Regions from separate parts of the Homo sapiens genome. Here regions 2, 3, 4, 5 and 6 are each linked to region 1. Evidence: fine-mapped expression QTL. A gene starts in region 1. Each other region holds a variant in brackets. All regions are shown on one strand. Distances are between the middles of the regions.

Evidence for each region. PIP is the estimated chance that this variant, and not a neighbour inherited with it, causes the effect. A credible set is the group of variants that fine-mapping cannot tell apart.
Region 2: its variant is the best candidate, but not a certain one, in a credible set for the expression of DHRS12 in whole blood (TOPMed, PIP 0.87).
Region 3: its variant is the best candidate, but not a certain one, in a credible set for the expression of DHRS12 in whole blood (TOPMed, PIP 0.59).
Region 4: its variant is the best candidate, but not a certain one, in a credible set for the expression of DHRS12 in whole blood (TOPMed, PIP 0.85).
Region 5: its variant is the best candidate, but not a certain one, in a credible set for the expression of DHRS12 in whole blood (INTERVAL, PIP 0.89).
Region 6: its variant is the best candidate, but not a certain one, in a credible set for the expression of DHRS12 in whole blood (TOPMed, PIP 0.89).

Annotation. Positions count from the first base shown.
Region 1 is chr13:51,802,211-51,806,300 of GRCh38, forward strand. It overlaps DHRS12 (dehydrogenase/reductase 12), which reads right to left and starts at 1,953. Exons shown (of 9, transcript NM_001377533.1): 1 at 1,844-1,953. LOC107984561 (a long non-coding RNA gene) reads left to right here and starts at 1,626. Exons shown (of 2, transcript XR_007063805.1): 1 at 1,626-2,591. RefSeq lists enhancers at 269-318, 2,704-2,833 and a silencer at 1,514-2,153.
Region 2 is chr13:51,901,307-51,905,396 of GRCh38, forward strand. It overlaps a transcript of TMEM272 not described here. Among named protein-coding and RNA genes, the nearest start is that of CCDC70, 41 kb to the left of the region's middle. The variant C/A (reference allele first, on the strand shown) is at 1,632.
Region 3 is chr13:52,279,893-52,283,982 of GRCh38, forward strand. It overlaps the pseudogene TPTE2P2. Among named protein-coding and RNA genes, the nearest start is that of LINC02333, 52 kb to the right of the region's middle. The variant G/A (reference allele first, on the strand shown) is at 2,238.
Region 4 is chr13:51,850,609-51,854,698 of GRCh38, forward strand. It overlaps a transcript of TMEM272 not described here. Among named protein-coding and RNA genes, the nearest start is that of TMEM272, 7.5 kb to the left of the region's middle. The variant A/G (reference allele first, on the strand shown) is at 2,173.
Region 5 is chr13:51,840,265-51,844,354 of GRCh38, forward strand. The region is part of intron 1 of TMEM272 (transmembrane protein 272); the gene reads right to left. Among named protein-coding and RNA genes, the nearest start is that of TMEM272, 2.9 kb to the right of the region's middle. The variant AT/A (reference allele first, on the strand shown) is at 2,357.
Region 6 is chr13:51,767,320-51,771,409 of GRCh38, forward strand. It overlaps WDFY2 (WD repeat and FYVE domain containing 2), which reads left to right. Exons shown (of 12, transcript NM_052950.4): 12 at 1-390. DHRS12 (dehydrogenase/reductase 12) reads right to left here. Exons shown (of 9, transcript NM_001377533.1): 8 at 1,837-1,974; 9 at 674-977. The coding sequence ends at 868. Among named protein-coding and RNA genes, the nearest start is that of DHRS12, 35 kb to the right of the region's middle. The variant C/T (reference allele first, on the strand shown) is at 1,936.

The DNA of each region.
Region 1 (4,090 bases):
ACACACACGACTTTCCCAAGGTCACCAGAAGGTAGGTGATCTTCTTCAACACCCAGCCTCGGTGCCAAAGGGCAGTCCCCAGACAAGCTGCATCAGCATCATCTGGAAACCTGTTGGAAATGCCCTGCCTACTGACTCAGAAGTGATTGCTTGGCAACCTGTGGTTTCATGTGCCTTGCCAGTGATTTTGACTCAAGCTGAGAGGACATTTGTACTTACTGTTTCCTGAAGCTGAGGTGACAGGGATGGGGAGGAGGAAGCTGGCAGGTATCTGTGTCTCCCCACACCCTCAATTTACCCAAATATGAAATTTGCTTAGGACCCATCCACACTTGCCCAGGGTTTAGGAGTCTGTTTAAAACTGCCCCAGGGAATTATTAGGTTCAGCAAAGTTTAGGAAACAGTGATTAGATCCTCCTGCCTTAGGAGCCCAATATAGGGAGGCTTTATAAAAATCCTTGTGCCAAGAGAAACGTTGTAAACTCTAACTCCGCGCTCTCACACTGAAGTCAAAACAAGGTTGTTGTTTTTCTCTCCTATTCACTAAATCCACAACAGCAGGAAAACCCATCTAACTTTGCCAACTGCCTTCCCCTCCCCTCCCTTCCCCCACCAATCTGTGGTGGATTGGGCCCCTTGGCCTCACTTCTACCTTCCCTCAAGGTGGGGAAATCAGAGCGAAAGAGTCCTGGGAGAAATTTTTACAGTCTGCTTTCCTTGGGGCCCACCCCTGGTTGGAAACTGACTTAAGCTTTCATGCTGTGTAATGTGGAAAGATCCAGCAATTAATGGTCATTGCCAGAGGACACCCCTTTGAAAGAAAGAGGCTGCCACTGTATTCCCCTAAAAACTGTGGGACAGGGCTCACGACTACACTCCCCACCATTCTCTGCAGCAGGGGCTCCTGAGACAGAGCTGAACCTTCTCCAAAACGATGTGGGGTGAAGAGCAGGGAGTTGCAACTCCTACCTCCCCTAGGAGTGCTGGCCAGGTTGCCGTGGGAACTGATAAAGCCCCAGTGCAGGGAGAAGCCTCTCAGAGGTGAGAATCACCTGGGGCATTTGGATGAAATGCCAGTCCAGGCCCCTGTGCAGATCCACTAAATCAGAATCTGTAGGGATGGGGCCTGAAAACTGGGTACTTTTAATTCTCGCCCAGTGATTCTGATGTGCAGACAGGGTTGAGAACCAGCGGTTAGCCTAATCAATTCTAAGAGAAAACCTCCATCTCTCCTCCGTCACAGGAACCTGTCACCTCTTAAAACCACAATGAGGTGGAGAGCCAACTAGGGCACACTGAGCGTGGTCACGGGGCGACGAAACCACCACGCACCGTTCCCCAGAAGCACACACTGGCTGGAAAGTTCCAGCTGGAGCCAAAGGTCGCAGTCCAGGTGCTGCATCTTTTTAAAGGAAACACACCCAAAGGCACTAGGACAGAGCCTTAGCTAGCGATTTAGATCCAGCCCTATCTGACGCCGCCAGCAGCACCACGAAGACACTTCCACGAGCACACCCAGCGGGGCGCCGAGGTGCCGCCCAAGAGGCTCCTTGGCGCCGGGGCCGCCTGACGTCAGTGGGACGGCCCTGGGCTTGGGCGCGCCACAGCCCCGCCCCTCGGGCGCCAGTCTCGGTCGCGGGCATTGAGCGGCTGGAGTCTGGCGACTGCCCCACGCCCAGCCGTGGGTCGCTAGACGGCGGGCGCACCCGTCGTTCTGGACACGCTTAGTCGGCCCAGCGAGAGGGCGAAGGAGCCGCGGGCGCGTCCCCGCCAACCCTGCTCGCCCGCGCCGAGGCGGGCCACGTGACAGCCCGGGGCCCCGCGCCCCGCCGCGCCGCCTTACTTGGTGTACTCGCGCAGCCCCTTGGCGAACCACACGACGCTGCGGTACAGGGACATGCCGGGAGCGCCCCACGCCTAGCCCCACCGCGCTCCCGGCGCGGCCTCCGCCCTGGTCCCGCCCCCCGGGAGTCGCCCGCCCTGACATCATCCCGGTTATGTAAGAGCCGCGGCTTCCGGTTCCTTGCTCCACCGGTAAGGCAAGGGGTCTCGGGGCCGGCCGGTCGACTCCGCCCCAGCCTCAGAGGGTGGAGTGAGGGCGGACCGGCCCTGGTGGGGGCCGCAGTCGAGGTCCGCAGTCTCCTCGGGGTCGAAATCGGGCATCAGCGCCGTTTAGAGAACACCGTCCTGCTGGGCATGGCCGGGATGCGAAGATGGCCCTGCAACGCACCTCCTAGAATTTGGTTACCTAGAAAACCATGTGGAATAAAACGACGAGGCTTATGATATTTAAAAGACTTCTGCATCGAATTGGTGTTATCATAAGGGTTATTTTAATAACTGGCATTCTCTAAGTTTCTACACGTGTTGGGGGATGCAGTGCCGTGCCACATTTCCCGTCTCCAGCAAGCGCAGTCAGATTGGCGACATCGCAGGCAAGAGGCAGGGCTGGGGCTCCCACCCGAGAAGTAATTGTCTCCAAAGTTGGACTTTTGCCACTGGTTCTGCGACTTCATGCAATGCCAGGGAGAGCCCCTTGATTTCCCCCAAATCCTCATCAGCCTCTTTCCACCCAAGCCCAGATGAACAGTGTGAGTAAAAAAGAGTGTGGTTGCTGCGTGAACCCAGATCTCAGACTAGTCATCCAGCCCCATTATGTAGGACTCAGACACCCCTGTCCACATCTAACCTCCAGCCCTAACGCCACATTAGAAATGGGGGTCTTACTGCTGCTGTCACTCCTAGTCACCCTGTTAAATTCTATACCGGTTTACCCAAGTCGCCCAGAGACTGGGCCCCACTTACATAAGCTGAAGAGACCAGCTGCTTTAATAGCCTCATTACCTAGGATATAGGATCACTGTCCAACCTCACTCCACAGTGGGCAAGTTTTTACTTCAGAATAACTTTTGAAATAAATTTCCCCGGAACAGCTCGCCCCTCTCAACAGGACTCTGAGGCTCCACTACGTTGCTGTTATTCCTGACAGAGTGATGAAAGGAAATTTAAACAAGTGGCATTTTGTAAAACCACCCCAGCCTGTGTGACTTTCAATGCCTGTCCGATTTGGCTGGGAAAATATTTTAGATCCCCAGGGCTACATACTGTTTTTTATACCCTCCTCTTTGTGTCAGTGATGGAAAAGGTGTCAATCTGCTCTGAATCTCTCTGAACACCTCAGGAAATAGGCTTTTGGCTCGCAGAGAGGGGATGAGAAATAGTTTTGAACCACCAAGTCTCTTGGAGGGTGTCAGCAGCCCCTTGAAGTAAAAGTGTGGCTGCAAACCCAGCTCTCTGCATTAGCCAGGTGAACCTGAGCATGCTGCATACACCCTCAGTCTTGGTTTCTTAATATGTAAAATGGGAATGAATATGCGCACCTCGTGGGGTGGTTGTGATTAAAGGCATTCATTATAAAGAGCTTAGTTTCATACAAAGTGATCAGAAGTGTTGGTTTCCCTCCTTAAGTTTTCTTCTCATTCCTTTTTCCCCTGCGCTTACAGCCATGCAGTGTACATTCAAGAAATTTCCATGAGGGCATGAGGTGTCCAGTGTTAGCCTCAAATCAAGCATCCACGAGGTAGTTAGTGTATACATTATATACATTTAAAGAGGAGGTCTTAGGAAAAGCCAAACCCTGTCTCAAAATGAGCTTCCACTCTCACCTGGATGCCAAGTAACACACACACACAAACAAAGGGCAGTATGGAGTTCACAAGGGAATGTTCCCGTTTAACTGGAGTCAGCTGAGCTGGATTCTAGTCCAATTTCTGCCAGTTATTCCCTGTGTGACCCATGTGATAAAATGTATAGAAGGCTTAAAGTGTGCCAAGCATTGTGGATTATAGCACTTAATTCTCACACTGATCCATATGGTTACTCCTGCTATTATCCCCATTTTACAGATGAGCAAACTGAGAGAGGTTACATAACTTGACTCAGGTCACAGTAAATACATGGTGGAGCCAGGCTTTGAGACCAGGTAGTATGATTCCAGAGCCCACACCTTCCCTGCTGCATCATACTAAATGGGGGCAAGTCACTTAGCCTCTGGGCCTCAGTTTTTCTCATCTGAACAGAAAGGGGGCCA
Region 2 (4,090 bases), 99 kb after region 1:
GCATTTGACCTGCTAAAAAGCCAAGTTCCACATGGTCTAGAGTTCAATGCAGAAATATCCCTGGTACATATAAAGAAACCACTCCTGCTAGAGGGGTGGCGCCCGGTGGAGCTGCCTGTGCCCCACCCGCCCTCCCATGCCTCACACCCCTCTCAGTTGTCAGTTGCCCCTGGAACAGGTACTTCTGGAAATTCATATAGCCAAGGAAAGTCAAAAATGAAGAAGAATCCAACAAAAACACAGAAATACATCAGTTGACTTGGGTCAATGGCATTACTAACTACCCCCGGAGAAGCCTGGACACATCTTCAGTGTCTCTATTTTCCTTTCTGCCCTCCCCCAGTGCCCACTCCATCCCAAGTCCCTTTACAAAGCTCTGTGACAGTGGCTCTCCTAAGTATCTAGAATCTACCTGCTCTCCTAAGGCTCACTGCCTCCCCGAGTTCAGGCTTTATCAGCCTCCTCCCACAAACACGTAGCCTCCTCCCTGCTTTCCCTACCTCCAGCCCAGCCTAGCTACAATCCTCTGGGCAGAAGCCCCATTGGGTGTGTTTACATTCCAAATTTGTGCAGAAAATCCACATAGCTTCATTGGGTTACCCAGTCCAGAGCAAAAACGCCAGGCCTTTCTCACTCTGTCATCCAAGCTCAAAATCCAAGAGAGGAGAGTTTCAAGGAGGAGGAGCTTGGGAAGTTATCCACTGGGGTCAAGCTCCATGGAAAGGTCATGTAATAAAAAAACTGAAAAGAATCACTTGGGATGTGGTATCAGGGGGGTTACTGCAGACCTCTGGAGAAGCCATTTCAGGGGTGAGGTCAGAAGCCAACGTGCATTGGATGAAAGAATAAATATAGGTGGATTCTCAGTTTTGTAAGATGTAAAAATCAAGAGAAGCAAAATGAAAAAAAGCACTGATGTTGAAGACAGTTTCCCAGTTGCCTTGTTACATTTTCAGTGTGGGACTGAAGGGGTGGTAGGCATTACTTCAACAGAATCACAACACATTTTGCCCTTCTCACGGCCTGGCGCCTGGAAAAGCTTTGGGAATTATTAGCTGCTGCTATTGATGTTGAGGGCACCCACATGCCTTTAGAACCAGAATCTAAAATGTTCAGCCTCTCAATGTCTAAAATGAACTGCTGCAATGTTGCAGATTTAAAAATTAGAGGAAAGTTATTTTATTAAATACATTTTAGAATATAGGTTTTATAGAAAGTATGTTATCATAGCTACTCTAGAAGCTGAACTTGGGAGAGTCCCATGGTTAGAGGGACTGAGCATTCTGCCAACAACCAGCCCCACCTTGCCAGCCAGGCCAGTGAGCCACCCCAGAAGCAAGGCCACCTGCCTCAGTCAAGCCTGCAGGTCACTTGCAGCCCTGATGGACAGTCTGTGGGCAACCTCCTGAGAAACCCAAACGGGAACCATTCTGCTAAGCTGCTCCCAAATCTCTGACACACACAGACTGTGAAATAACAAATATTCATTGTCCGTTTAAGGCACTAAGTTTTGGAGTAATTTATTTTGAGAAACAGATAACTAACACAGCCCTGACAGCAATTGGTTATTGGCTATGTGATGCCGAGGGAGTGGATAACTTCCTAGCATGGTGGCTTCTGCTCTGCAAGGG[C/A]AATTCTTCAGGAAGCAGGTGGCTGCGGTGAGCAATACTCAAAGCTGGGAGATGAGTGCATCCGCCTGGTAAAGGGGCCCTGGGCAAGGCACCAATAGCATCCACTGGGGGTGTTGATTATAATCTAGTACCTAAATATAGTTTTGGTTTTGACAGGTCAGTTTGTACACAAACACAATTGTGGAAATATTTTGCATTTCTTTTGAAGGTCTCACCTCCTTAGTGTGTGTATCCAGGAGGTACACAACTAGAACTGGATGCACGAGGCAGCAGCAGTGGGAAGCAGCAAGGTGATCTAGAGACACTTTATTTATTACTCACTAAGTCCCAAAAAGTGCTTGCAAATATAGAAAGTGCAGGTAGAGATGATCAATAATAACTAACTATAGTGTCTTCCCTTCATTGCCATTGAGGTCTTGGTTTCCAATAAGACACTTCATAACTCATTCCTAAGCATGCTGTTGGAAATGGGAGGGAGGGAGAGGTGGCACACCAACGAGGTCAGGGAGGGAAGAGAGACTCTACGTCAGATGACGATGTCTCAGTTGTCACTTCAGGTTCTGGCTGCTCTCTCCACTGTACAAGGAAAGCCACCAAATAGAGGGCAAACTGCTCCCCCTACTCTCCCCAGAACACCCCTTTTTCCTATCCCTAGGTGTAAGTGCAGGAGACCCTGAGCATCTAATGGAGTCAGATGCTAAGTTAAACACCCAGAAGTCCCGGTTTCTATGGGGCCAGAGGAAAAGGCAGAGTGCTATTTCCAGACTTCAGTGGCAACCGAAAAATGAAAAAGACTCGTGTGGGTGTGGGGCAAAGGCTGCCCCAGAATGCCCAAACTTTAGCTTCAATAAACCTATCATAGCCATAATGAGGCAGTGCTGGGGCAGAAAAGAGAACCATATAGGGTCTTCTGCTCTGGCAGAATCATACCTGGTTGTGCAACCAAAGTGTCTTCTCACACCTGCCTCCTATGACACCATTTGGGTTTCTCCAACAGTCTTCCACGTGTGTGTGTGTGTGTGTGTGTGTGTGTGTTTAGAAAGAAGCATCTGGTCACCAGAAACTCAAAGGCCAATAACTCTTAACAAAAATACATTCACACTGGACAAGTGAACACTCAATCTAACACACAGCACCTGTGGCCCTGGGATGCTAGGCATGAGGTGGTTTTCTGCAGTGCTGCTTCTCATTCACCATCAGCATCAGAATCAGCATGAGCTTAATGACTGCTTGTTGCCTGCTTTGCAGTGATGATGACAATGATGGTAATATTAATGATGATGATGATGATGATGTTAATGAGCCCATGGACCAGATTTAGTGCTGCTGCCTATTTTGAAATTAAGAAATACATGATGACAGAAACTGAATTCAGGTAGCACTGGGCTAAAGGCAGATGACTGATGACTGCTTGGTGGCTAGCTTATATGCAATTCTTATGATGACCCTAAGGTAATTGTTGTTGATGATGATGATAATGATAATTGATGATCATGATCATGATGAGTCAGATCTGGGAAAACATCACCTGGCCTTCAGCAGCTAATGCATAGTAGTAATGAATAATTTTCTCTGGGCTTGAATAGGAATTCATGGTATGGACGTGGAAAAGAAGGAGGCTCTAGATCAAAAGAGAAAAGATAAGCATGGTCCGTTTTCAAGATATTGTGAAAAGTACAGGTTGAGCAATCCAAAAATCTGAAATGCTCAAAATTCTGCAACTTTTTGAGTATCAATATGATGCTCAAAGGTCATGCTCAAAGGAAATGCTCATTGGAGCATTTTAGATTTTAGATTTTCAGTTTGGGAATGCTCAACCAGCAAATATAATGCAAATATTCCAAAATCCTAAATCTAAAACACTTCTGGCTCCAAGCATTTCAATTAAGAAACATTCATTCTGTACTGATGTGGAGGCTGAAAACCTTGAATTTTATTTACCAGGTAGGGGAACATCATCATTAGTAGTGTTTCTTAACCTCATTAGTACTGACATTTTGGAATAGATAATTGCTGTGGGAGTCTGTTCTGTGTGCTGTGGGGTGTTTAACAGCATCCCTGCCCTCCAACCACTTGACGCCAGTAGCACACCTCCAGTAGTTACTGTGTAAAATATCTGTGGACATTACCAAATGCTCCTGGGGGAGGTCAAAAGCACCCTCGTTGAGAAGCATTGAGCTAAGAGAAACAGCAGACAACACGAAGCAGTCAACAGAGAACGGCCCTAAGCAGGAGAAGAAATGTCAGGCTGAAGGCAGTTCGTGCAGGGAGAGAGACTGTCCTCCCTCTTCCAGAGAAAAGAGCTGTCACGACACTGGACGAGGGCCCAGAGGCAGGACTTCAGAGCAACAACCTCAGAGAGCCATGATTCCAGAGCAGTCTCAGTGCCTGCTGTCACCACCTCGGACACGGCAGGTCCCACTCACCTCGGCTAGAGCTGCACCTGACTCACCCAGTCA
Region 3 (4,090 bases), 480 kb after region 1:
GCGACAATATGTTCTGGAAGTCAAAATCATCACTATTACAAACATTATTATAGATTTAAAATAACATACAAAAGTTAATTTTATATGATCAGACTCCATTTTCACAGAAAAATACCTTTTAAGATTGAGGTTGACAGAAAAGAGCTAATACTCAGGGTAATCAAGATAACATATTAAATTATCCAACATAATGACCATTAAGCTGGCATGGTGTTCTTAACACTCCACTGGTTCAAACCATATGCCATGTACTTATGTTGGCCTCAGTCTGAAGTTCCCCCTGTTCTTGGAATTTATTTCTTATCTTAAATACCAAAGAAAATCCAAGAGTTCTGGGCACCAGTGATGGTGGGAACTCCCAACGTGCTTTGTAGCCCTCTGACTCAGAACACCTGAGATCTACAAAGCTGTGACCTCATTCTCTGGGGTTCTAGGAAGAGAAGCGGTCTCTCTGGGATCCTTGGGATTCAGGATAACTACTAGAACTTAATAAACTGAAACTCAAATGGAGTCAGCTGAAAATCCATTCAAGTTTTTGTGCTGCAACCGAGTAGTCCTGAATTGAGATGACATGGAAATCTTCCTTGCCAGGGCTAAACCACAAATATGTCACACTATCACAATGGCATAGCATATAGCCTCACGAATAAAGAATACTTTGAATGAATGTGGCTTAGATGAGGCAAAAACAAAATAAAAATATAATTACAAGAAAAAGTGAAGTTAATGTAAGTAAATCAACAGTTAAGTGTCACAAACCTGTAATATAAGTGAGGTCTAGGTCAAATCCATCACTTTCGTATCACCTTTTGTTTCCTGAAACCTGAGAGTTTAAAACCATTATTAGTTGGTGAAACATAAATCAACATAAAAATAAAGAACATTATACAGTATAGATATCAACCCTTGCCAATGGGTCCCAAAACACAAAATATTTTTCTGAATCGTAAGCATGTTTTGCCCACTTACCAGCCTTCTTATCAGCTTTCCAAGTTGTCTTTTTAGATGAGCCAGATGAAAAACTCTTATCAGAATGATAAGTCGTAGAAGTCGAAATAAACGTGTCCATCTAAAAATAAATTTAAAAGATCAATTTTTGCTTCAGAAACAGACAATTTTATGAATATAAATTAAGTTTAGAGCAGCAGTTGTTAACCAGGGACAATTTTCCCTCCTCTCCTCAATCACCTACATGGGGGATATTTGGCAGTGTCTTGAGGCATTTTTGGTTTTCACAACTGGTGTGCTTGTGTGTGTGTGTGTGTGTGTGTGTGTGTGTGCGCGCGCATGCATGCGCTACTTCCATCTAATGGATAGAAGCCAGGAATTCTGCTAAACATCCTGCAATGAATATAACTGCTCACCACCCTCCTATGACAATAATGATCTGGCCCAAAATGTTAGTAATGCTGAGGTTGAAAAATTCTGGTCTAGAGAAATAGTGAAACAATAGAGTCTTAGAATTTGTAAATTTAATGTTGGGATTTGAGACTAGCATTTTCAATTTTTCCACATCAAAACAAATTGAGGATTCTTGTTCACCTTTGTTACTCCCATCTGTAACAGAGGTTCACTACAGCTGCTAATGCACATTAGGCAGGCAACAGATTGAGATACTTCCCAAGTGTGCTAGCTGGTATCTCTCCTACCGTCAGAAACATCAAAGCAGATAACTGATGGTCTGGACTAGTGCTTATCTGGTTTAAGCATGCATAAAGAAGAGTCATCTGGAAAAGCGTGTTAAGCTACAGATTGTTGGATCCCAGAGATATTGATTCAGTGGGTCCAGGGTGGGGCCTAAGGTATTTTTCTTGTATTTCTAGCAAGCTCTCAAGTGATGCTGAGGTTTCTAGTCAGAGGACCACATTGGCTGAGGTGATTTTCAAACAACTCCAAAAGCCTATCACTTAACATGCTTAGTTGGTGCCTGAGTTGTAGTCCAGGGAAGCTAGGGTACAGAAAGAAACCCGGTATTTGACCCATGAACAAGCTTAGGAAGCCACAAACATCTCCATCCCAGTATACGTTTGCTCTTCCATTTTCCTCATTGTCACAGTAGAAAAGAAGAACAAAAAGAGAGTCACCAGGTCCTCATACACCCTTTAGTTTCCTAATCCCTAACAGTTCTAACTTTGCCTTAGCTTTCTTTGTTTCTACCACAACTATACTGCAAAACTCTACTGTTGTGTTGCTATACGTGTCATCTCCTAGTTTTCTGTTCTGTTTTCTATTTCTTA[G/A]AACATCATGATTGAGGCTGGGCACGGTGGCTCATGCTTGTAATACCAGTACTTTGGGAGGCCGGGGTGGGCAGATCACTTGAGGTCAGGAGTTCAAGACCAGCCTGACCAACATGGTGAAACTCGTCTCTACTAAAAATACAAAAATTAGCCAGGTATGGGGGTGCATGCCTGTAATCCCAGCTACTCGGGGGGCCGAGGCAGGAGAATCACTTTAACCGGCGGGGCAGAAGTTGCAGTGAGCCCGAGATCATGCCACTGAACTCCAGCCTGGGCAACACAGTGAGACTCCATCTCAAAAGAAAAAAAAAAAAAAGGAAAAGAAAATCGTGATTCATGGACACAGGAAGGGGAATATCACACTCTGGGGACTGTGGTGGGGTAGGGGAAGGGGGGAGGGATAGCATTGGGAGATATACCTAATGCTAGATGACGAGTTAGTGGGTGCAGCGCACCAGCATGGCACATGTATACATACGTAACTAACCTGCACAATGTGCACATGTACCCTAAAACTTAAAGTATAATAAAAAAAAAATTAAAAAAAAAAGACCACTAAAACTAGAAAAAAAAAAAAAGAAAGAAAATTGTGATTAAAGTCACTCAAATTTTGCATATGCTCAAATAAATTCCCTCTTGGCTGTGGGAAAAACCCAGAGAGAACATTATGTGTAAGGGATTTGTAGTTGAAGCACAGAGGGGAATTGTTTTTAATATCAAATTTTTTTATGTATCACATATGAAACTAATAAGAATGTCACACTTGATCTTAGCCAAAAGGCCAAAAATGATACAAATGGGAATTTGACGAGAACTTCAAAATGTAGTGAAGTTAAAGTTAGTACAGGAAGTAAAGTCCTTCTTTGGCTACTCCATCTTTTTTATTCAATGAATGGTACTTGGTGTGTATACTCTTCACTGGTCCCTAAGTATCACAATCTTTTAGTTTCAACCTATGTGGGAATTTACCTAAACATTTCATTTTAAAGCAACATATTTGGTATAAAATGAGCCATTTGAAGTTGAAAAGATTATACAGAATAAAAGCCACAGAAAATGCAAAAAGTAAATGAAAAATTTTAAGAGAAGTGAGTCTTATATTTCATACCTGGGAATATCCTTAAGAAACTTAACGTCAAAAAAAATGTAAACGACATCAACCAGCAGAATAATCACAGTAACAGCAGTATCTAAAATGTTAAGTAAATCAGAAAAATAATGCTGTCTCCTGTAATATAAAACAGAAAAATATGAGTTCATCTCCCCTGCAAGAAGAGATAGGAATATTTAAAGACCACAACTATTGACTGATCCCCATTAAGAATTCTACTTTCATACATTATTTAAAATGCATTTTCTAGAGTAGACTAAGGGAAAAATATAACATTCATGGGAAGTTTTCAAACAATAAATTTATATTCATCATTTGACACATATATATAACTAAAACACCAATATGGCAATTTAAGTATAGCAAGACATATAATTAAATGCATATTAACCACCCTTATCATAGATGATGAGGTATCTATCCCCTCAAGCATTTATCATTGTGTTACAAACAATCCAATTACACTTTCAGTCATTTTAAAATGTACAATTGTTATTGACTATAGTCACCCTGTTGTGCTAGCAAACAGTAGGTGTTATTCATTTTTTTCTATTTTTTTGTACCTATTAACCATCCTCACCTCCCCACCCCCAACCTCCTACTACCATTCCCAGCCTCTGATGACCATCCTTCTACTCATGTCTATGAGTTCAACTGTTAACCCTTTTAGAGCCCACAAATAAGTGAGAACATGTGGTGTTTGTCTTTCCGTGCCTGGCTTATTTCAGTTAACGTAGTGATC
Region 4 (4,090 bases), 48 kb after region 1:
TGCATTGCTTCTGTGATATTGTTGCTACCGGTCCATTTCAATAAACAGAGCTATACCATATCTATTTTTAAAATCATGAGTACTTTTTGATATTTAAAATTTAAATCTAATACTATACTCTTTTGTGTAATTTATTTGATTTTTATCATTGTATCCCTTTTCTTTTATACTGAAAATTTTGAATCCTAACATTATTAACGTATTTATATGCTTTGTCATACAATAGAAAGAAATGTTTCAAAGTAACAGTACAGCACTTCTACAAAAATAAAATGACCAAGTTGAAGTTTCAAATTTATTTGAAGTTCTTCTCCTCTTTAGAATATATCCCGCTAAGGAGGGTGAGTCAAAGAAGTGTGCCCTAGGATCATGTGACATAATCCTTCCTCTGTAGGGGTATGGTATATATTTGATGTATGGTTATGTTCATGTGTTCATTTCCAATTTTAAGATTTGTTTAAAAGAAGAGGTACTACAGCACTTTGGGAGGCCAAGGCAGGCAGATCCCTTGGGCCTAGGAGTTTGAGACCAGCTGGGCAACACAGCAAGACCCTGTCTCTACAAAAAGTACAAAAATTAGCTGGGTGTGGTGGCGTGCACTGATAGTCCCAGCTACTTGGGGGACTGAGGTGGGAGGATCACTTGAGCCTGAGATGTGGAAGGTGCAGTGAGCCATGATCATGTCACTGCACTCCAACCTGAACTACAGAGTGACATCTTGCCTCCTCCGTAACCAAAAAAAAAGAAGAGGAAGAAGAGGAAGAAGAGGAAGAGGAGGAGGAGGAGGAGGAAGAAGAAGAACAAGAAGAAGAAGAAGAAGAAGACGCCCTACATTTGTAGTCATTTTTTTTTTTCACTTAATAATGTATCCTGGGAATCTCTCCAAATCAGCACGAAAAGACCTTTGTTTTACCTTTTTTTTTTTTTTTTTTTTGAGACGGAGTCTTGTTCTGTTACCCAGGCTAGAGTGCAGTGGCATGTCCTCGGCTCACCACAACCTCCACCTCCTGGGTTCAAGCAATTCTCCTGCCTCAGCCTCCTGAGTAACTGGGACTACAGGCGCACGCCACCATGTCCAACTAATTTTTGTATTTTTAGTAAAGACAGGGTTTCACTATGTTGGCCAGGCTGCTCTCAAACTCCTGACCTTGTGATCTGCCTGCCTCAGCATCCCAAAGTGCTGGGATTACAGGCGTGAGCCACCGCGCCCAGCCTGTTATATATTTTTTTACAGCTGCATAGTACTTTGCTCTGTGGATGTGCCAGTTTATGTAAGTGGTTCCCTATTGCTACAAAATTGAGTTACTTCCAATCTTTTGGAATTACAAACAATACTCCGATGAATAACCTACACAAGTATCTTTCTGTAATTGTGTACATGTACCTGCTGGATAAATTTCTAGACATGGAATTGCTGGGTGAAAAGGCAAATTCACGTGTAATTTTCTTAGTTTCTGACAAATCCCCATACATGGGGGTTATAACAGTTTGTATTCCTACCAGCACTGTATAGCAGGGCCTATTTCCTTCCAACTCTGCTAACAGAGTGTATTGTCAAACTTTTGGATTTTTGCCAGTTTGATCGATGAGAAATGCAACAGTTTTCTTAATCAATTGCATTTCTCTAATTATAAGTATGGTTGAAAATTTTTTTCATATATTTAAGAGCCATTTGCATTTGTCTGCAACCAATTTGTTCATATCCTTTGGCCATTTATCTATTGGGTTGGTGGTCTTTGTCTGCTCAATTTCAGAAGCTCTTTATAAAACGGGCACTGTGGATATAGCAGTGAACATGACAAAGTCTCCTCTTTCACAAAGCCTGCTTCCAGGGCATGATTCCTTTATGGCTGGTGTGGCTAGAAACAGTTCTCTTCTTTCAATACAGAGACTGAGGCCATGAGCAGTGATGATTATGTTGTCATTGTCTTCATCTTTGAGCAATTTTCCAGTTTGATCTACTTTTCCAGGAAAATACAGTTGACCCGCGGCCGGGCGCGGTGGCTCAAGCCTGTAATCCCAGGACTTTGGGAGGCCAAGGCGGGCAGATCATGAGGTCAAGAGATCGAGACCATCCTGGCCAACATGGTGTAACCCCGTCTCTACTAAAAATACAAAAAATTAGCCGGGCGTGGTGGCGGGCTTCTGTAATCCCAGCTACTTGGGAGGCTG[A/G]GGCAGGAGAATTGCTTGAACCCAGGAGGTGAAGGATGCAGTGAGCCAAGATCGCGCCATTGCACCACTCCAGTCTGGGTAAAAAGAGCAAAACTCCGTCAAAAAAAAAAAAAAAAATACAGTTGACCCTTGAACAATGAGTGCTTAGGAGCACTGAACCTGTGCATAGTCAGAATTCCATGTGTAACTTTCAACTCCCCAAAAACTTAGCTACTAATAGCCTAATGTTGACCAGAAACAATAGCATAGTCAATTAGCATATGTTTTGTATGTTATATGTATTATATATACTGTGTTCTTACGATAAAGTAAGCTGGAGAAAAGAAAATGTTAAGAAAATCCCAGGCCAGGCGTGGTGGCTCATACCTGTAATCCCAGCACTTTGGGAGACTGAGGCAGGCAGATCACCTGAGGTCAGGAGTTTGAGACCAGCCTGGCTAACATATAGTGAAACCCCATCTCTACTAAAAAATACAAAAGTTAGCTGGGCTTCGTGGCGCATGCCAGTAGTCCCAGCTACTTGGGAAGCTGAGGCAGAAGAATCGCTTGAACCTGGGAGGCAGAGGTTGCAGTGAGCTGAGATCATGCCACTGCACTCCAGCCTGGGCAACATAGCGAGACTCCATCTCTCAAAAAAAAAAAGAAAGAAGAAAGAAAATATATTTACTATTCATTAAGTGTAAATGGATCATCATAAAGGTCTGCATCCTCATCGTCTTCACATTGAGTAGGTTGAGAAGGAAGAGGAAGAGGAGGTGTTGGTCTTCTTGTCTCAGGGGTGACAGAGGCCAAAGAAAATTCATGTATAAGTGGACCTCACTGTTCACACCTGTGTTGTTCAAGGGCCAACCATAATATATCCCTAATGGAATAAATTAATTTTCCAACATAGGGGAATGTACACTCTGGCAGTAATTAAAAATTGTGTTCTCAAAAATGTTTAAAGAAATTGGGAAGTGTAAATGATATATGAAAAAGCAAGCCACAAAACAGCATACACAGAATAAAACCAATTGCATAGAATATATGTAGTCATAAGGATAGGAAATATATTAGAAGAATATACCCCAAAATGTTCATACTGGTTACCTTTGAGTATTGGGATATGGTTGATTTTCATTTTCTTCTTCATCTTTGCTCTATTTTCTGATTTCTTTTTACAATGAACATGCATTACCTTGAAAATTGGCAAGAATGGTAAACTATTTTTAAAATAATAGCATTGAAAAGATTAAGTTAAATTTGTGTCACTCATGAGGCACTGATTTTAAAATATTTAAGTTAAACTGTCTATCTTGAGTGAACAGAAAATATTGATTTTGTACAAAGTGTGTGGCAGGGGGAGAAAGTATATCCTTTTCAATCCCGTGAGCTCGCTGATGTTAAGTGATTTATTTTCTGTACTCCATTCACACTTAGCAATAATAATCTTATTGCTATTTCCTCCAGAGGCTATTATAAGGCTTACCCGAAATAGCAAACACTTTATGAACTGTGAATCACTGAGGATCCCAAAGTTTCATGTAAGAATACTTCCCCAACCCATCTAAATCAACTCCAGCTCAATTTCACATTTCTATCAGTGCACGATCACTTTCCAGGTATTGAGACTGGGTACTTGAAACCTTTCCTTCACTTCCTTCATCTTCATGCCATGCAACCATTTGATCACCTTTTGCATCTTTCTTCAAAATATTTATTGTAGCAATCTGTTCTTCTCTGACTCCCCAGCTATGATGCTCATTGTGACCCAGGCTATTTGATGCCTATGTTATTATAGTAACCTTCTACTTTAGAGAGGTATGGTCTCTGAGCAAAACTGCCTTGGTTCAAATCTAGGCTCTACTTCTGTGTAGCTTTAGGCAAGTTTCTGAAATTCTCTATGCACTTCCTTCTTCATATGTGAAATGGAAATGGT
Region 5 (4,090 bases), 38 kb after region 1:
GTGAGTCAGGGATTAAGCAAGGAGGTCACGGTGCCTCCCTGGTCAGTCCTGTCATGCTTGATCCTATTTAACCAGGCAAAGATTCTTATCCCCATTTTACAGATGAAGAAACTGAGGGTCAGAAAAGTGAAGGACTTGCCCAAGATCACACAGCCAGATTGGAATCCAGGTGTCTTAAAATCTGCCAAACTTGAGGTGCCTACTCTCTGTTAACCAGAACGGACTTTGACAGTTTTGACTGCAGTGAGATGATGGGACACAGAGTGGCAGGGCTGAGCACCCAAGGTTTTCTGACCCCCCAATCCCTGGGAATCCCAAAGGCAGCGCTTTGGATTCCAGGGGTCCCTCTGCTGTTTCTGCCTCCTGACGCAGGCTCCCTGCCCACTGTTCTCCTGGAAGCAATTGTGGGGGATGCGCATGAGTCTGTCTCCCTGGCATGCAGTAGGTCTTCAGTAATGTTTAATGAATAATTCTATGAACTACTATTCAAATGTCTCTTCACAAGGCTCCATTTTCCCCCACAATGTTCTTGCAAAAACTGTGGCTGTGATGTCCTTATACACAGAAAATCAGGAACACCACAGCCCTGAGGAAACCACAGCCTCCTTCCACATCCTTTGACTCGGGATTCTACCGATCAAGGTGAAATGAGACCAGTTCTCTGGCCCAATGGGGTTTGCCAGGTGCACATCCGTTTGTTACATAACAAGTAGGCCCCAAGCCATGGACAAATGGCTACTGTATGAATTACAGATTTATTGTTGATGTCCACACTTCATGAGGTTGATTGCCACACGGGTGTCACAGAAGCTAAGCCACTTAAAACCCTGCCTGGAAAAACAACCCTCCTGGATCCAGTGATAAGCCCAGTTATCTAAAGGGGCCATGGCCCATCACGGCTCCTAAAGGCCCGGAAGGTCGGTTCCTTTCCTCACCCTTCTTAGGGAAAACAGAGGGTGCACTTCACATAACAGGGAGAGTGTGTACTTCACATCTTCCAGCCACGAACCACAGCATTTTTCTCCTGGATCACAGAAGGGATAGAACAGAGGGAGGAGACACAAGAGCCATCTCTTTACACTTGCCTGGTGGAGTCGCCACTGATTTACAAACTTCCTTTGAAATGTGTTGAACGGTTTCTATCAGCGCCTACAAACTAAGACATTCCAGTCTTCAAATCCACAGCAGCTTTGCAGAAACTAACGAGATGGGTCTGTGTCACATTATAACAAGACATTTCTACCTTGGGCCATTCCCTGGGGTAAGAGGTCACGCTTTAATCTCCTGTGAATCCTGAAGAACAATGTTTCACCACAAAAAGTAATAGAGCTGCATATACATTTTTTAATGCAAATGTCCTAAATTGGCTGATCCCTTTAGCCACTAACTGCAAATAAGGTAGAAACATCAATTTGAAAAACAGTGATATCTTTATTGATAATATCAGACCACAAGAGGTGGCAGCCAATAGAACACACCAACACAAGTCGCAGGTATTAGATCCATTTTATAAATGAGGAGACTCTTATTCTTTCAAGCTTGTTATTTTCATAAACTGGCAAGATGGATGAGAACTAAAAAAAGAATGATGTGCTGTGAATTCTGTCACGCCTTAAAGAATGTTCCCTAAGAGACAGGTAGCAGTGGCAGTAGAACTCAGCTTTGGCATCCAGCCCGAAAGGGAAGACAGAATTCCCAGGTACAGTCTCAAATGCTGGCCGACAAACTTTGCATATTGTGTTCAACTTCCCTTACAAGGAATAAAATGTTAAACACACACACACACACATCATATGACCTCGTGCATGTAATAATGTCTGTAGATCTACGTAAACACATAGAAAAAGATCAGCAGCATAAACACTAAACCACTGTGAATAACTGTTCCCTATGAAGGCAGGTACAGGGATATGGGGCCACTGGGGCTGGGGTAGGGGTAGGGAGGAATGTGCCGCAGGCAGGCGTGGGTAGTATTTTCATTTCCACTTTATACCCAAATATTGCCTTGCCTTTTCCCCCATTAGCAGGTTTTACCATTATAATTTTAAACTTCTTTTTAAAACCTCTTAAAATTCAAGAAGTATTATTTGAAATGAAAAGTAGTTTGCTTTCCAAAAGTCCAGAGATTTTTAAAAAGTAGCATGTAGGAGATAGATAAGCAGAAAAGGAGTAAGTCCACCAGGGAGCAGACACAAAAAGAAGAGAGATGATGTGATGGTGGTAGGCAAGATTTTTCTCTTTTGGAATACTTTCTTTAAAAATTACAAAAGCGAATTCACAGAAAAATTAGATCAAGGAGAAAAGAAAATCATTAGTCATTATAAACAACTGCAGAACTTCCAGCCCAACTGTTAGT[AT/A]TTTGGAGCTTTTAAGTATATGCATATATACATATGCATATGTGCATGTACACACATTTTACATGGTTGCAATAATCAGGCACATTAAGTGAACACATCACATTTTGACATAAGCATTCTTTCTGTTACCATTTGGTCTTCAGAACTCTCATTTTCACAGCTGAATTATATTTCACAGAGTACGCTATATCAAACTATATTTCTCTATATCTTCTTGTTGGATATTTACTTTTCACTCAAGTAATCCTAAGAGACATTTCTCTCCATGAAAAGTGCTTTGTTTCATGCACACGTAGATCTCTTGGAATAGTTATGTAATTAAAAAGCATAAGCAACTTTTTGGATTTGAGGTAAAATTGACTTATAAATGAGCTGTATCCATTTCCAGTGCCACCAGCAATATGAGAGTGGCAGTTTCACCACACCTAACCAGCACTGGGTGGCTGAAAGACTAATGCATTTTTATTACTCTCATAGGCAAAAGTGGAAATTAATTATTTTAATTTACATTTTTGATTGCCAGTGATATTTTGCCAATTCTTTCTAGGCTTATTTCCCAGTTGTATGTTCCCCCTTGTGATTTGGTTTTTATGACCCAAGATATGGATTTATTTCAATTCAGAGGAAGCCCACAAAGAAAGCTGCAATTTGAGAAAATAGCAGTGAATCTGCTTTTTGATTCACAGAATTCACTGTGTGAATTTGCAGATTCAAATACACTACAAAAGACCTATTCACTATTATGGTGGGGACTTGAACAACTCACAAAAAACTGCACGTTCCTTGGAGCCCTTTGAAGCGGCAGCTCTTCCAAAAGAGGGTCCCTCAACAGCAAGAGATGCCCAATAGAGCAAATACATACTAATGATGGATTCATGTCAATGCAATCCATTAAATGATTGACTAAAATCTGTAATGACACAGATTTTAGTCAATTTCTATACCTTCTATATCTTCTACTAAGAAAACGTACATTTTTTCTTATTTGATAGAAAGTTTTCTTATTTGTTAGAAATCTGAAACAGGAAGAGATTGGGGTAACAGGCCGGGCAGTGCCTTCTCTCCAGTGTGAACAAACAGTGACTTACAAGTCTATCCTTGGGCATGCTGTGATAGGACTGTGTGTCTCACACCTGCCTCTGCACCTAGAAGGGCAGTGATAATAGCCCCTGCTGCTTCCTCTCCTAGCAGCTGAGTGATAATAAAGGGCACGATGGGAATTAATCAATAATAATTGCCAAATGATATGCTCAATGCATTTTCAATTTTCAGTCCAATTGATATATCTCAGTGGTTCTCAACCAGAGGTGATCTGATCCCCAAGGCACATTTGGCAATATGTGGAGACATTTTTAATAGTCATGGCTGGAGCAGGGCTGTCGATAAAGAGACCAGAGATACTGAAAAACATCCTCCAAGGAGCAGGGCAGTCCCCAACAACACTTATCTGCTCCAAAATGTCAATAGGACTAGGTCTGAGAAACTTTCTATGTCTGTCTAACATTCCCAGTTTTAGAGTTCAAATTTGTAAAATTCTACTTTTGTTAACCTCTGAGTTGTGTCATGAATCAACAGTAAACATATATATATGTATATATATGTGTGTATGTGTAGACACACACACATATATATATATGATTGTGTTTTTACTGATTGGCTTGGTAAATTAAACTATTTATTCCTAAATCAGCTGTGAGGACCAACTCACTCTTGGTTTTGAATAACATTGAATA
Region 6 (4,090 bases), 35 kb before region 1:
GCTTGATAGCGCCTCCTTTTGTCAGAAAGACGCTGATGTTTCAGGCTGGCACACCCAGAAAAATCCCTTCCTTGTGGTCCTTGGCTGATGATGAGCCCTGGATCAGAGTGTCTCCAGGACCACTGAGAAGCTGCAGCCGTCTGGGTTTTCCTCTGCTATGGGGGATGAGTTACGTTTATTCCACCATGGACACCAAGAATGTATGTAGATGTATTCTAAATCTGCTCATTGGTTTTATTACAACTTTTCCTGGAGTCACTAAGAGGTAAAATGGTGTAAATTAGAGGTTTTATCAAAGTGTAGTACCAGAATGCCAGATGCATTACTGAAGCCACTCCTAATCTTAAGCAAATGTAAACTAGGCCTCATTAAATTGTTTGTGTAAATATGCATCGTCCCTTGGTTATGCTGTGCTTCTGGGACCATGCACAGTAAAGGCAGTGTCCAGCCCTCTCCTGGGGCGGGGGGGGGGGGGGGGTGCACAGCGCCAGCCTCTGACACTGGAGGAGCTGAGAAAGGGAGGGGAAGTGGAGTTCACAGGGGGGCATTCCTGCTGCCCCCACCCCTGCGTCCCCTAAGACTGAAATGATGGTTCATCTCAAACTTCGAATTCTTTAGAAAACCATTCTCGAATAAATGAGACTTAAAATAAGAAAAGAACCTGCTGCAGGAGTTCAAGGTGAGCCTGATCACAGCCTCGGTAGTATTTATTTTGAAATAAAAGTTCCCATCCCTTGTAGGCCTCGCTGTGAGGCACAACGTCTTCGAGGGGAAGTTGAAGTGGGGTCTTCTTATTCACTGGTCCCTAGACCGCACCTTCTGGTATCTTCTAAGGCAATTCTGGTACCGCACTGTGTCTGGGTTGGCCTATTTAAATGTCTGAGCCAGCTGTTCCAGGATTTCAATGAGTTTCTCCTCTTCGGCCGGTGAGGAGGACGCTGTAGCGAGAGGCAAGTGTGTAGAAACTGGCTTCCGATCTAAAAGTGAGAGGGAACCGCAGAGAGGTGTGAGCTGCTGCAGCGTGGCTGGGTCCATGTCCCTGTGCTGCTCAGGCCTTGAACCGACGCCTGCTGGAGTGGCAGCACCCTACAGCTGTTAGACCCCCATCCCTGCTGTCAAAGGTCCCACAGGGATCAGGCAGCATGGATTGATATGTAAAGTGCAGTTTGGGAACTGGGAGGCTGCAGCCAGGGCTGGACGGGAGACCACGTTTGGGTGATCAGCAGGAAGGGGTGCGGCCATCCTCCCGGATACCCCAGGGGTCACCAGCGCTTCAGAATTCCTCAAGCAAGGGTGGTTCTCATCAAGAACAGAGGAAAGAGAAGCCAAGCAAAGAGCCTGGCTTCCACCCGAGGTCAAGTGCTGTCTTCGGATGGCGTCCACTCACACGCCTGCCCCCTTAGGAGCCCACTGGGGAGAGACGTGAACAGATCACTGCTTCCAAAAATAGAGAAGCAGAGTCCCTTACACCCTTTGCACTGCAGAGAAGCAGAGTCCGTTACTCCCTTTGCAGTGCAGCTTTGAATAGCGCCCCTCCTGGGCCTCAGCAAACTGCAGAGAAAATCTTCCATTCCCAAGGTAGGAACTGCCTCTCCCGTTCTCACAGGACCTTGATGACAGGGTTATCACAAGTCTCCAAAGAAGCTACCAACCTGGAGTGAAGCGCTTCCCAAAACTAACCTCAGCAGGCAAAGCAATCATCTCGCCAAAGAAGCCCAGGCACCCCCCAGGGGACAGTCCCACCCCAGGTTTCACGGAGGGGAAGGTGCGCCTCGAAGGCCCAGCTGCTGCCCCTAGCCCTGTGTCAGCTGCCTTCACAGCCAGGGAGGAAGTCACCTTGAAAGAAGCGGCCGCTGGGCTGTGCGGCTGCGGCAGAGGAGAGGGCCAGCCACAGCATGGTGTCCGCGCCCTGGGCCTCGGAGCGCAGGCGGTCCC[C/T]GAACCTGGCGTGGAACCCCGGCATCGCCTGCCTCACACCTGGGAGAAGGAAGGGTCAGGCGGATTAGGACAGCATTCTCCAGCAAATGTGGTTGACTTCCCTTAATTTAAAAAAAAAAAAAAGTGCAAAAATGAAATGGGATCATAAACTGCTCCTTCTATTTTATAGCACTCACCCAAGCCACTCGGAACCAGTTCCAAAGAACCTTGTTACAAAGCCCCCAAGGTGTCACCTGATGGAAAGTGGTGCTCACCAGAGGCCTGATTGAGTCCCCATGTCCCCGGGGCACCAGCACCCAGCCCAGCCCTGAGAGCAGAGTCGCCCGCAGAGCCCTCCCTTTCCATCCTAAGAGAGGATTCTAATGAGCTGTGGGGCTCACAGTGAGGCTGGGCCCAGCAAACCACTTAGTCTCCTGGGTTCAGGAGCCCTCTCAAACCATCTAGGCTCAGAGGATCCTGGCTGTTGGTTCCCTGGACTGTTTTAGTGTTTTCCTCTTTTAGGGAGGAGTAGATAAGAGGAAAGAATTCTTCACTTCCTCTGCCAAGCCCCTCGAGGTGTCCCACCCTCTGCATCCCAGGGCTACAGGGAGGTGTTTGCCTGGAGTAGCCTCCCGGGCCTGGCCTGTGCCACAGCGTCGGGCACTCTACCTGCCCACGCCTTCGAGGACCCAGCCACACGCTCTGGCTCCAGTCCACACCCCATTTTCCCACAGACCTCAGGGAACACAGTGTCTCCACAGTGAGCACATTGGGAAACAAAATAGTTCTCTCTCGAAGCCAAGGAAAGAAAATAAACCAGAGAAAACAACAATTAAGAGCCTTACTGAGATCATGGAATTTTAGAGCTAGAAAGGATCACCTAAGCAAAAGCCCTCCTTTTTTAAATTAAAAATAAACATCTTTTTTTCTTTTCACAGAAGCAATACTTGTTTACTGTAGAAAAATCAGGATAAACTGATAGGCAAAAAGAAAAAATGTGAAAACCTTGTGATGTGTCACTCCGCGGTGACACATGTCCGCATGCTCAGCCCTCCCAGGCCCCTGTGGCCACAGACAGGTTGTGTGCACCTGAGAGCTGCTCTGTAACCTCTGAACAACACATGGTAAACTGCACCTTGACCCAGATGATAGAGCCCGCTGGTGGGCTTGCCAAGCAGATTTTAAACATCTGAGCTGATGCTGGGATTGTCAGAATGGTGTCCTTGGAGGGTAAGAGGCTGGGGGCCCCCCATGGCCTCCTAGAATTCACCCTGGACAGGCAGAACCAAGCATGTCTCCCATTAGGCCGTGAGAAGAATCGAGAAGCCATGCTCTCTGAGCACTCCCAGGCTGAGTCTCCCCTAGTATACTTTGCTGAGAACATCCTTTCTGTATTTAAGACAGGAGACTCAGATCTGTACAGGTGAGGACTAATTTCTGCCAAATCTCCAAGCTGGTCTCCATGAGATGCCACAAAGCACCAACACACACCTCTTTCTATAGGGGTGTGGTAGTTACAAAAATAAGATCATGAGGCATGTACTATTCAGGAACTTGGTATCTTCATTTAATGATATAGTGCACACAGGGTTTTTCCATAGGCATGATTGGCAGCAGAGTCTTCAGCCCTGAACAGATTTTGCACAGGTGTTCTATAATTTATTAACTTCATCTCCTACCACCAGCACTGTGATAAGCAACCTTGTTTTCCCTATCTTTATTTCTTAGGATGAATTCCAAGGCTTCTGATAAATAGTGATTTTCAGAAAGGCCATGCCAGCAGTGTGTGAGAGCCTGATTCCCAAAACCCCATGGCCAGGCCCGGCTGGGAGGTCTTAGCCTCTCTGGGCCTCAGTTCCCTCATCTGTAAATGGGTGTGATAATAGACAGTAGTGGCCACTCCACAGAGGCTTGAGGACAAATGCGTTAATCCGCAGACAGCGCTGAGACCAGTTCTTGGCGCCGCGGGTGCACCCTGGGGTGTGTGCTGTGGCTGCTGCTGCTTTCAGTTCCCTTGTTTGTAGAGGAGGAAAGAGCTGCAGAGAGCCCAGGTGAGCTGCCTGAGGTCATGGAGTTGGTGAGGCCAATCCGGAAGAGAATTCTGCTCCCCTCCACCGCTGCTCCAACACGCTTCCAGATCATTCGAGCTGTGTCCTTGTGGCTGGCATTTACCTTC